3 separate regions of the Homo sapiens genome follow, and regions 2 and 3 are each reported to be linked to region 1. The links are microRNA targets in miRTarBase. Many come from high-throughput screens and were not tested one by one. Region 1 holds a microRNA gene; each other region holds the end of a gene's coding sequence. Distances are between the middles of the regions.
The links. The annotated mature microRNA hsa-miR-4310 reads GCAGCAUUCAUGUCCC and lies in region 1 at 2,039-2,054, shown strand. An mRNA with a match to its seed (bases 2 to 7 or 8) in the 3' UTR can be bound and repressed. Matches are read on the target gene's strand: a 7mer-m8 pairs with bases 2 to 8, a 7mer-A1 pairs with bases 2 to 7 and ends in A, and an 8mer does both.

Region 2: miRTarBase lists ARIH1 as a target of hsa-miR-4310. Seed matches in the 3' UTR shown: 7mer-m8 at 608-614.
Region 3: the mRNA of KLHL30 is a reported target of hsa-miR-4310. Seed matches in the 3' UTR shown: 8mer at 1,992-1,999.

The regions. Positions count from the first base shown.
Region 1 is chr15:41,865,478-41,868,558 of GRCh38, reverse strand. It overlaps MIR4310 (microRNA 4310), which reads left to right and starts at 2,008; the gene lies at 2,008-2,064. It overlaps SPTBN5 (spectrin beta, non-erythrocytic 5), which reads left to right. Exons shown (of 68, transcript NM_016642.4): 33 at 1-161; 34 at 341-490; 35 at 917-1,021; 36 at 1,433-1,600; 37 at 2,066-2,215; 38 at 2,330-2,521; 39 at 2,656-2,751.
Region 2 is chr15:72,582,730-72,585,810 of GRCh38, reverse strand. It overlaps ARIH1 (ariadne RBR E3 ubiquitin protein ligase 1), which reads right to left. Exons shown (of 14, transcript NM_005744.5): 14 at 1-2,603. The coding sequence ends at 2,519. Among named protein-coding and RNA genes, the nearest start is that of MIR630, 2.9 kb to the left of the region's middle.
Region 3 is chr2:238,150,433-238,153,513 of GRCh38, forward strand. It overlaps KLHL30 (kelch like family member 30), which reads left to right. Exons shown (of 8, transcript NM_198582.4): 8 at 382-2,515. The coding sequence ends at 633. Among named protein-coding and RNA genes, the nearest start is that of ERFE, 7.0 kb to the right of the region's middle. RefSeq lists an enhancer at 2,850-3,081.

The sequences.
Region 1 (3,081 bases):
TGCAGGTGGAGGAGAGTTCGCAAGAGCCTAGCAGTGGCCCGCTGAAGCTCAGTGCCCACCAGTGGCTCCGGGCGGAGCTGGAGGCCCGGGAGAAGCTGTGGCAGCAGGCCACCCAGCTGGGGCAGCAGGCACTTCTTGCTGCAGGGACACCCACCAAGGAGGTGGGCCCCCTCCCCTGGTGCCCCCACATACCCTAGCTGACCAAGCCTGTGCCTGGCCACCTGGTGCCCCGTCCTACTGTGCCATGCTGGCCTCTCCTCAGGAGCTTCCCTCAGGATCCAGTCCTCACCTCACCCACACCACCCTCCCCAGCTGAGGCTCCTCATGTGTCCATCCCCAGGTCCAGGAAGAGCTTCGAGCCCTGCAGGACCAGCGGGACCAGGTGTATCAGACCTGGGCACGGAAGCAAGAGAGGCTGCAGGCCGAGCAGCAGGAGCAGCTCTTCCTCAGAGAGTGCGGCCGCCTGGAGGAGATCCTCGCGGCCCAGGAGGCAGGTCCCCTCCCGCCCTCACACTCCGCTCAGCCTCCTGCTCCTCCTTTCTATTCTCCTCTCTGCTCAGTCCCTTTCCTCCTGCCTCTCTGGCTTTTTCTCTAATATGAGGCAGCTGTGCACAAGTCCTTCCAGGTGGCCATGGTGAAGTGCTGAGGCCCCTGAGCGTCCACTGACATCCCCAGCCCCTATCCCAGACTGAGCCCCGAGGAAGTTGGCCAGAGGCTGGTCATGCTCCCCACATGGTGCAGAGGTTGAGGTATCGCAGCCTCCCAACCTGGACTCCCACTCCTCACAGCTCCATGCCAAGCTCAGTGGGCACTCCTAAGGCCCTGCCATACCCAGAGTGCCCATGGGCACAGACTGCAGCTGGAGGGGCTGGCTGGCTGGAAGGCTTGGTGGCCTCTGACTTTTCTGTGGATCCAGGTCTCCCTGAAAACCAGTGCCTTGGGGAGCTCGGTGGAAGAGGTAGAGCAGTTGATTCGCAAGCACGAGGTCTTCCTGAAGGTTCTGACTGCCCAGGACAAGAAGGTAATGGAGTCAGGAGGCCTGGGCGTGGTCAGAGTGTGGTGGTTGGGAGAGAGTCCTGAAGGGGGTCACGGGGCGCTTGGTGTGTTCCTGGAGGCAGTGCTGATGAGCCTGCAAGGCTGGGGTCCTGGTTGGGGTTGACTGAGCAAGTTGTATGTGTGGCTCAAGAAGAGGGCCCAGGGGGAGATGGGCCACACTGCAGAGACCCACACGGGGCATTTGGCTCTGTCCACACCGTGTGGTCCTTGGGGAGCAGACTGGTCTGGCTTGTGGCTGGGAGGATCAGATACCCCTCAGCCATGTGGGGCTGAGGAAAGGGCTCCGGGGCCCTCAAAGAAAGGACTGTGAGCCCTGCAGGCCAGGCCCTGCCCCAGCCCAGGGTGGGAGAGCAGCAGCTGTGCCCCTGCCCCACAGGAGGCAGCCCTGCGTGAGCGGCTGAAGACGCTCCGGCGCCCCCGGGTGCGGGACCGGCTTCCCATCCTGCTGCAGCGCCGGATGAGAGTGAAGGAGCTGGCGGAGAGCCGGGGACACGCCCTGCATGCCTCCCTGCTGATGGCCAGCTTCACCCAGGCCGCAACCCAGGTCAGAGGGCACCCCCAGCCCAGGGCCTTCCACTGGAACCACACTCGACAGTTTTCAGCCGCCTTCACACCGCAACACTGTGAGGCGGAAACAGGTTCGGGGGTGGATGGCTTTCCCAGAGGCTGTGCTGGAGCCCAGAACATGGGATCTAAGCCCCTTTGTGTGGAGACCTCACCAGTGTCCCGAGCTCTAGCAGCGCCAGGGCAAGAGAGGTGGGGAAGGGAGCAGAGCAGCCCAGGGCCCCAGGAGTAGGGGCCACACCTCCAAAACGAGAGCCCACCCAAGGCCCTGCCCGGCTGCCTCCTGCAGCAACCTTCCGGAGCTGGAACCTTCAGGGCTCATTTACCAGGTGCTGCCCGCCCCACCCCTGAGGCCAGCCTCCTGGGAATGGCTGGGGGCTAGGCCTGTGGCGTCTGGGGCCTGAGGCTGCAGAACATTGCAGCATTCATGTCCCACCCCCACCAGGCTGAGGACTGGATCCAGGCGTGGGCCCAGCAGCTGAAGGAGCCGGTCCCTCCTGGGGACCTGAGAGATAAGCTGAAGCCCCTGCTGAAACACCAGGCCTTTGAGGCTGAAGTCCAGGCCCATGAGGAGGTCATGACCTCTGTTGCCAAGGTAACAACCGGGCCCTCAGCCCCATGCCTGCCCCAAAGTGTGGCCCAGGGGCAATGTCAGTCTTAGGAGGAAGTGCAGCAGGCAAGATGTCCTGTGTCCCCTCTCTCCCTCCAGAAGGGAGAGGCTCTCCTGGCACAGAGTCACCCTCGAGCCGGAGAGGTCTCCCAGCGGCTGCAGGGCCTGCGGAAGCACTGGGAGGACCTGAGGCAGGCAATGGCCCTCAGGGGCCAGGAGCTGGAGGACAGGCGGAACTTCCTGGAGTTCCTGCAGAGAGTGGACCTTGCAGAGGCCTGGATCCAGGAGAAGGTGTAGCCCCAGCTGGGTGGGGGCTGAGAGATGGGGGGAGGAGCCCTCCCTTGACAGGAGGGATCCCCAGCAGCAGGTGCCAGGAGCCTGGGCTGGTGCTCACAGCGCTCCCTCCCCACCCTCGGCCTTCACAGGAGGTGAAGATGAATGTTGGTGACCTGGGCCAGGACCTGGAGCACTGCCTGCAGCTCCGACGGCGGCTCCGCGAGTTCCGAGGAAACTCGGCCGGGGTAAGAGGGCCTTGCTGGGTAGAGGTTGGCCATGCATCCCGCACTGAAAATCCAACTGAGAGCAGGGAAAGAGTGTGGGCTGTAGAGCAGGGCGTGGGCGCCATGCCTGCTCCTCCTATGCCCTCGGGCAGGCTCCCTCCTCTCACCCGCCTTCACTCCTTCCTCTTTAGAATGGGGGTAGCACCCACCTCAGAGGTAAGAGAGCACGTGTGTGGTGGCAGGTACGTGAATCTCTAGCTGTGATAAAACTGCATAGACCTATCCCCCACTGCCCCGCACAGATGCATACTTGCAAAAACTAATAAAATCTGAATGAGGTCTGGTCTAGTT
Region 2 (3,081 bases), 31 Mb from region 1:
TTCTGTCAAATATGGTGGTATCTGTTAAAAGCTTGGAAGTAGAAAAGGGCCAGTTCATCTTGATCATACAAATTAGGGAATGCACCCACAACTGCAATACCCTCAGGCAGTATGCCAACATTGAAATAGAAAGCATCTCTAAAAAGCACTGTTCCTCCATGGGTGAAGACTGGTATTAGGAAGTGCACACACAATTTTTGGGTATTTGTTGCAACAGGAACACGTGGATTTATGACACTCAAACCTAGACACTGCAAAGTTAACTGGTAAGATTTTTTTTTTTTAAACACCACACATACACAAAGCATTTTAAAGGAGCCACATATATCTATATAGCAACTCTGACTGCTTTTCAAAGTTACCAGGGAAAGGAACTTATTCAGGCTTTCTTTAAAAAAACTCCTTAGTTTTAATGTATATCTTTTTAAGATTGATGCTGTCATTTGAAGTAAAATAATGTCATATGGATAATGGGGGAAGAGGGGAGAGAGACGAGAAAATGGAAGAAGCAGACACTGAGTTCAGATTTGCACCTGAGGTGGCAAGGGAGGAAAGGAGAAAAGGTACAGGTAAAGTTGATCCTAAAGCGACAAGTGGTTTAAGGAAGCAGCATTTATACTCAGCAAACATTCACTGATTTTTGATGGGAAAAGAACAGTTGCCAGTAAATCTCCTGTAACAACCTTTTCTAAAAGGAAAAGTAGGGTTGATTCAGCAAAGCCTAACTTAGGCAAAAGGCCAGAGGAAAGTGAACCTACTTCCCAATGGAGTAATAGGATGTACAGTGTAAGAGCAGACAAAGCTGCCTCACAAATGGTAAACACTCCCTAGGCAAAAGACATTTAAAGGAAGACGAAGAGGTCCTCAGCCTCAACTGGTATTTCATATTTAGACCTCTTAATCTAGTTGCCTAGTTCACTCTGCACTCCTGTATAAAACTGACAGATTTACAGATGCTGACCTATTGAAAAATACCACAGCCAGAATGGCCTAAACAGGTATATAGTTAATACAACCACCACCATCCTTTACTTTTAACATAGCTCTTAGTAGGAATTTCATAAAAATGGACATCACAGCTAAAATGCATTATTAATTCTCCTATCTGCTGACAATAAAAAAGCAGCAAACTCAGTGATTTCTATTTAAATGCACTAGATGGGAATATCATGTTCTAGGGGTGTTTGCCTTCAAACCAAACCCACAGCAACACACACAAGCAATTTCGGTATCCACCATTTTAAATTCACAATCTGAGACTAAATGAATGGCTATTTATATTTAAAGCAAAACATTCTCTTTGACACCCTAATGTAGAGAAGGGGTGAGCAGACGAGCCATAACTAAAATCTGAAAAGCAGCAATTAAGGGAAAACCAAAAAGTAAAAGAAATTTTAAAATGCTTCCACTGGATGCGACAGGGGACTTAAGAATGCCTACAGCTGTGTGCATAACATGGGCACACAAAGGCTTGGGTAGAGGCATGATGCCATGGAGGGGGATTAGGTTGGGACAGGTTAATTCATGAGCTGTAGCAACAAAACTCCCTGCTGTACCCCTTAATCAGGTCATGGCATTAGTCAGAGCTTGACCTCCCTTGTCCCTGATCAAGAGCAGGAATTCAAGGCATGAGGCCCATGGCCGGCAACAGACATACCAACACCAGAAAGGGCAAAATAACCTCAGGAAAGTGAAAGAGCTCTAGATAGGTCTTCCAGAGGTGCTAAACCGACACACCTTTATCCCAACCCCAACCCGGGAAAGATAAGCAAACTGAAAGAAAATGCACAGCAAATAGACATAATCTTGAAGATTTTTAAAGAATAAATATTTTTTTGTAATTAAACATTATGCAAACACGTGCCACGCTTGCTTTGTCCATGCATATGCGCTATATACAATTTTGAAAAATACTGTGTTGTCCTCTTGTTTTAAAAGTCATATACAAAGTTTTTATGTTTTTCGTTTGTTGAATCCTCTTGCTGCCTACCCCTTTCCCCATCCCAAGATTTTCTTTACAAGGAACTAAGCATCATTCACTCATGACCTTGGGGTATGAGAGAAAGAGAGTCAGTCTGTGTGTGGGTGTATCTGTATGTGTAGGGGAGGAAGGGGAAGAGGTCCTTTACCAAAGTACAACAAAATGGCTGGTTTGAACATGAAAAGCAGTGTCAAGGAGCTGTTTGAAATTTTAACTGTACTACACTCAGGAAAAGGAAAAAGAAAAAAAAGGAGTCAGCTTTGAGAATGAAGCTACGTTACAAGTTAAAGTTGGAGGGCTTTTAGTGTGTCTGTCACACTTTTGTTGGTGGCCTAGAATACTGTTGTACAATGGTTTATCTACCTTTTTATTACAATATAATTTACTTAAACTTTCCATTAACAAAACAATTCTGGTACTACAGACCAGTGGTGTCAGAATAGGCTTAGTGCCTCCTTGTTTGTGTTTGTTTTGTTTTAATTGCATGAGCACTCTAGATGGTAAAGTTTTCAGAGTTCATTTTATGCAGGGCCATTCTCAGTCCTCAATGTACTCCCACAGATCTTTTTCATAGCCTTCATGCACATGCTGTAACAAAACCCTTCGTCGACTCTCACAGTATCTGTAATCAAAGAGAAAAAAAAAAAAACTTGTTGTCAGCCTCTAATAATAAAAAAAGAGGCATTTACTTATTTTTAAGGCATCCCTATAGTTTATCCAGACTCGGAACCAAGCACCTATTTTTTATTTTAATAGGCACATGTTCAGGTCTAGATGTACAGACACATCAAACTGCTTCTAATATTAAAATGGTATTTTCTGAAAGCCATGATTCCATGGGAATTAATTTTAAAGCAATAAAGTGTTACAAGTTCTGATGGACCTTAGAAATCATAATTCAATCCCACAGTTCTGCAGATAAACAGGTTCAGAAATAATTTCATGGGTTCTTTATTCACGTCCTTAAAATCTCTGTCAACTGTAAAAGTACTGTAAACAAAATATGGTAGCTAAAATTGGCTAAGGGAAGGGAAGATATTGGTTAGGACTAAATCTCCAAGTCTTCCAAACTCCCCAAGTTTCCTACAACTTTCAAAAGA
Region 3 (3,081 bases), not on the chromosome of region 1:
GCTTGTCTAGGCTTTTCCTGATTGTCTGCCAGGGCTGAGCCACACCTGTCTCCTGTGAGACAGCGAAGCCTCAGTGAGGCCTCGAGTCAGCCCGGACCTCCCCGGGAGGCCTCAGGGCCCCCTCTGACTGCAGGGGTTGGAAGTGTCATCCCAAGGGCTGAGGGTCAGAGAGGGAAAGGGACCTCCCCACCAAAAGAAGAGTCTGAGGAGGCTGGAGGGGCTGCGGTGGGCTGCCCAGGGACTCTGCGCTCATGCCCTGGAGGGGATCTGGGCCAGGTGGCTGGCTGTCCTCTCTGCCACTCCCCCGACCCTGCTGAGGGCACCCTCAGCCCTGCTCTCCAGCTCCCGCCCACCGGACGCTAACCCGCTGACCGTGCACAGGTGCAGTCACAGCACAGCCTGCATGAGAATGGCGCGCTGGTGCCACTGGGTGATGCGCTGTACGTGACGGGCGGCCGCTGGCAGGGCATGGAAGGTGACTACCACGTGGAGATGGAGGCCTACGACACGGTTCGGGACACCTGGACCCGCCACGGCGCCCTGCCCCGGCTCTGGCTCTACCACGGGGCCTCCACCGTCTTCCTGGATGTCTCCAAGTGGACCCAGCCCTCCGGCCCCACCCAGGAGCACTAAACCAGGGCCAGGGTCCCCGGGGAGGAGTCCCCACAGCGGCCCCTCATCAGCCTGTGGAACGGCCCCTTTCATTTTCGCTTATTTGTTCACTCGGAGCTACCATTCCTTCCAAGCTGCGCTCAGGCCACCAGGGGTGATCAGACGGCATGGCTTGGAGGACACAGCCTTGGTCTCTGTGGCCACCACACTAAACTCTGAGCTGAGCAGTGACAAGGGCCTGAGTGCCAGACGCTGGCATAACAGGGACAGGAAGCTCTGCTGCCCCTGGGGTTCCCGAGACCTCAGAGAGGGGAGCCGGGGGCCGGGCCAGCATTCCCAGAGCTTGCGAGCCCCACTCCTGCCCCTGGACCCCAGCAGGGGCTTTTGGAGCAGTTGCATGAATGTGGGGTGAACACGGAGCGTCCCAGAAAGCTGAGGCTGCTGGGGAAGGCAGGCCCCGGAGATGGGATCAGCACCAGGTCCTCGTGGGCCTGCTTCTGCCCAGCTCACGGCAGCGTAACTGTGGCCAGCCACCTCCCCTCTCTGGGCTTCAAGCTCCGCGTCCACCACACACGGGGCTGGCTGTGTGGGCTTTGGGTCCCCACTCAGGCTTTGCATGTTGGTGCTGTGTTTCTGCTTCTGTGGACAAAGGAGGCCCCCACCCATCTCTTGCACCCAGAGGGCGGTGCCCACAGAGGCACCAGGAAGGAGGGAGGCAGGGCGTGGGGCGGGGCTGGAGGGTCCCAGGGAGGTGAGCAGTTTTGCTCTCAGAAGGGATTGCCTCCGTCTCTGTGTGTCAGAACAAAGGCTCTTCATTAGAATGGAATTTCCCACCAGGGGACGACTCTTGGGTGCATTGGTGGCAGCCTCCTGAGGGTGAGGGGTAGCATCCGATGGGCCCCTGCCAGCATGCAGCCCGACTCCGGCTGGCTCAGGCTCCGAGTGGCTTCTCCCTCATCCTGAATGAGGCACCCACCTTTGCAGCTAAGGAGACAATGAAGGACTCTCCCTGGGTGCCCAATGGCGTGTCCCTCCTGTCACAGGCTCCGCCCTGGGACATGGGGCTAGAAGTCAGGAGTCGGGCCCGGCCAGGCACAGGCCCTGGTGTTGCCCCAGAGGCCCTGGGCAGCTCCGGTCTCCCGCCGGATCCAGGCTTCCTCTCCAGGACCAGCCCCTGGGTTCCTCCTTAACACCCCCCGCCCCTGGGGACCAGAGGGGCCTCTGACATCCTTGGGTTCTGAGGACGGAAACCCCTGAGCCTCTTGAGCTTCTGTAGGTAGGGATCTGCTTTGCTCCCAGACCTGCCTCTCATAGCTTTTTTTTTTTTTTTTTTTTTTTTTTGAGACGGAGTCTCGCTCTTGTCGTCCAGGCTGGAGTGCAATGCTGAGATCTTGGCTCACTGCAACCTCCACCTCCCGGGTTCAAGAGATTCTCCTGCCTTAGCCTCTCAAGTAGCTGGGATTACAGGCACTCGCCACCACGCCTGACTAATTTTTGTATTTTTAGTAGAAACAGGGTTTCACCATGTTGACCAGGCTGGTCTTGAACTCCTGACCTCAGGTGATCCGCCCGCCTCAGCCTCCCAAAGTGCTGGGATTACAAGGTGTGGGAGAAGTGAGTTGACCCTGGAGGGCCAGACAGAGTGGGGCCTCTGGGTGCTACCAAAGGAACAAGAGCCCAGAGCTGAGGAGACCTTCGGTGGCAGATGGATTGGATGAAGCAAGGGTGAGGGTTTCTGGGGCCCTGGGCTCTGTTTCCATGTGGAAATCTGAAATGTTTTCTAGACAGTGATGGAAGGAGGTCAGCCAAAGGGCTGTTTAAAAACAAAGCCTCCATGTAAACCATTTCTGCAAGAATATTTTAAAATAAATAAAAATAAAACTGAAGACATGAAATGTCAAAATAGGCTGGCTTTGATCACAAAGTAGCCAAAAGGGCGGCGTGCCAGAGCAACGCCTGCTGTCCACCCTTGCACACCCTATGGGAATATGGGCGGTCCTCGGGTGGAAGGAGTGGGCCTCTCCAGGGCCTGGCTCCCAGCTTTGAGGTGCCAAAGTGCACCTCGTCCGATCAGCTGGGCTCCTGATTCAGGGGGCCATCGCAGCCTTCAGGGCACCAGGAGGAAAGGGGCGTCTGCTGGGTATTGAGGTGAGTGGCTAAGGAGAGTTTCACGACGGCCTCTCCCCATGCTGTGGGCAGGGTGAAGGGAGCCCAGTGGCTGGAGAGGCATCCCAGGACAGCAGCAGTGGGAGTGCCACCCCCCCCACCCCGTCTTGGGAGAAGGGAAAGGGCAGACGCAGACTCCAGGGAGCTGCTGAGAGAGGGCCTTGGCGGGGGAACGCAGCCACCACCCCTGTTGTCCAGCTGGGAGGAGGTGGCAGAGTCCATCTGCCCTCTCTCTCTGGCCTGCCCCCTGTCTCCCACTAGCGCCTCCTACAGGCCAAGCCCAACCAGAACCCAGAGGGAAGA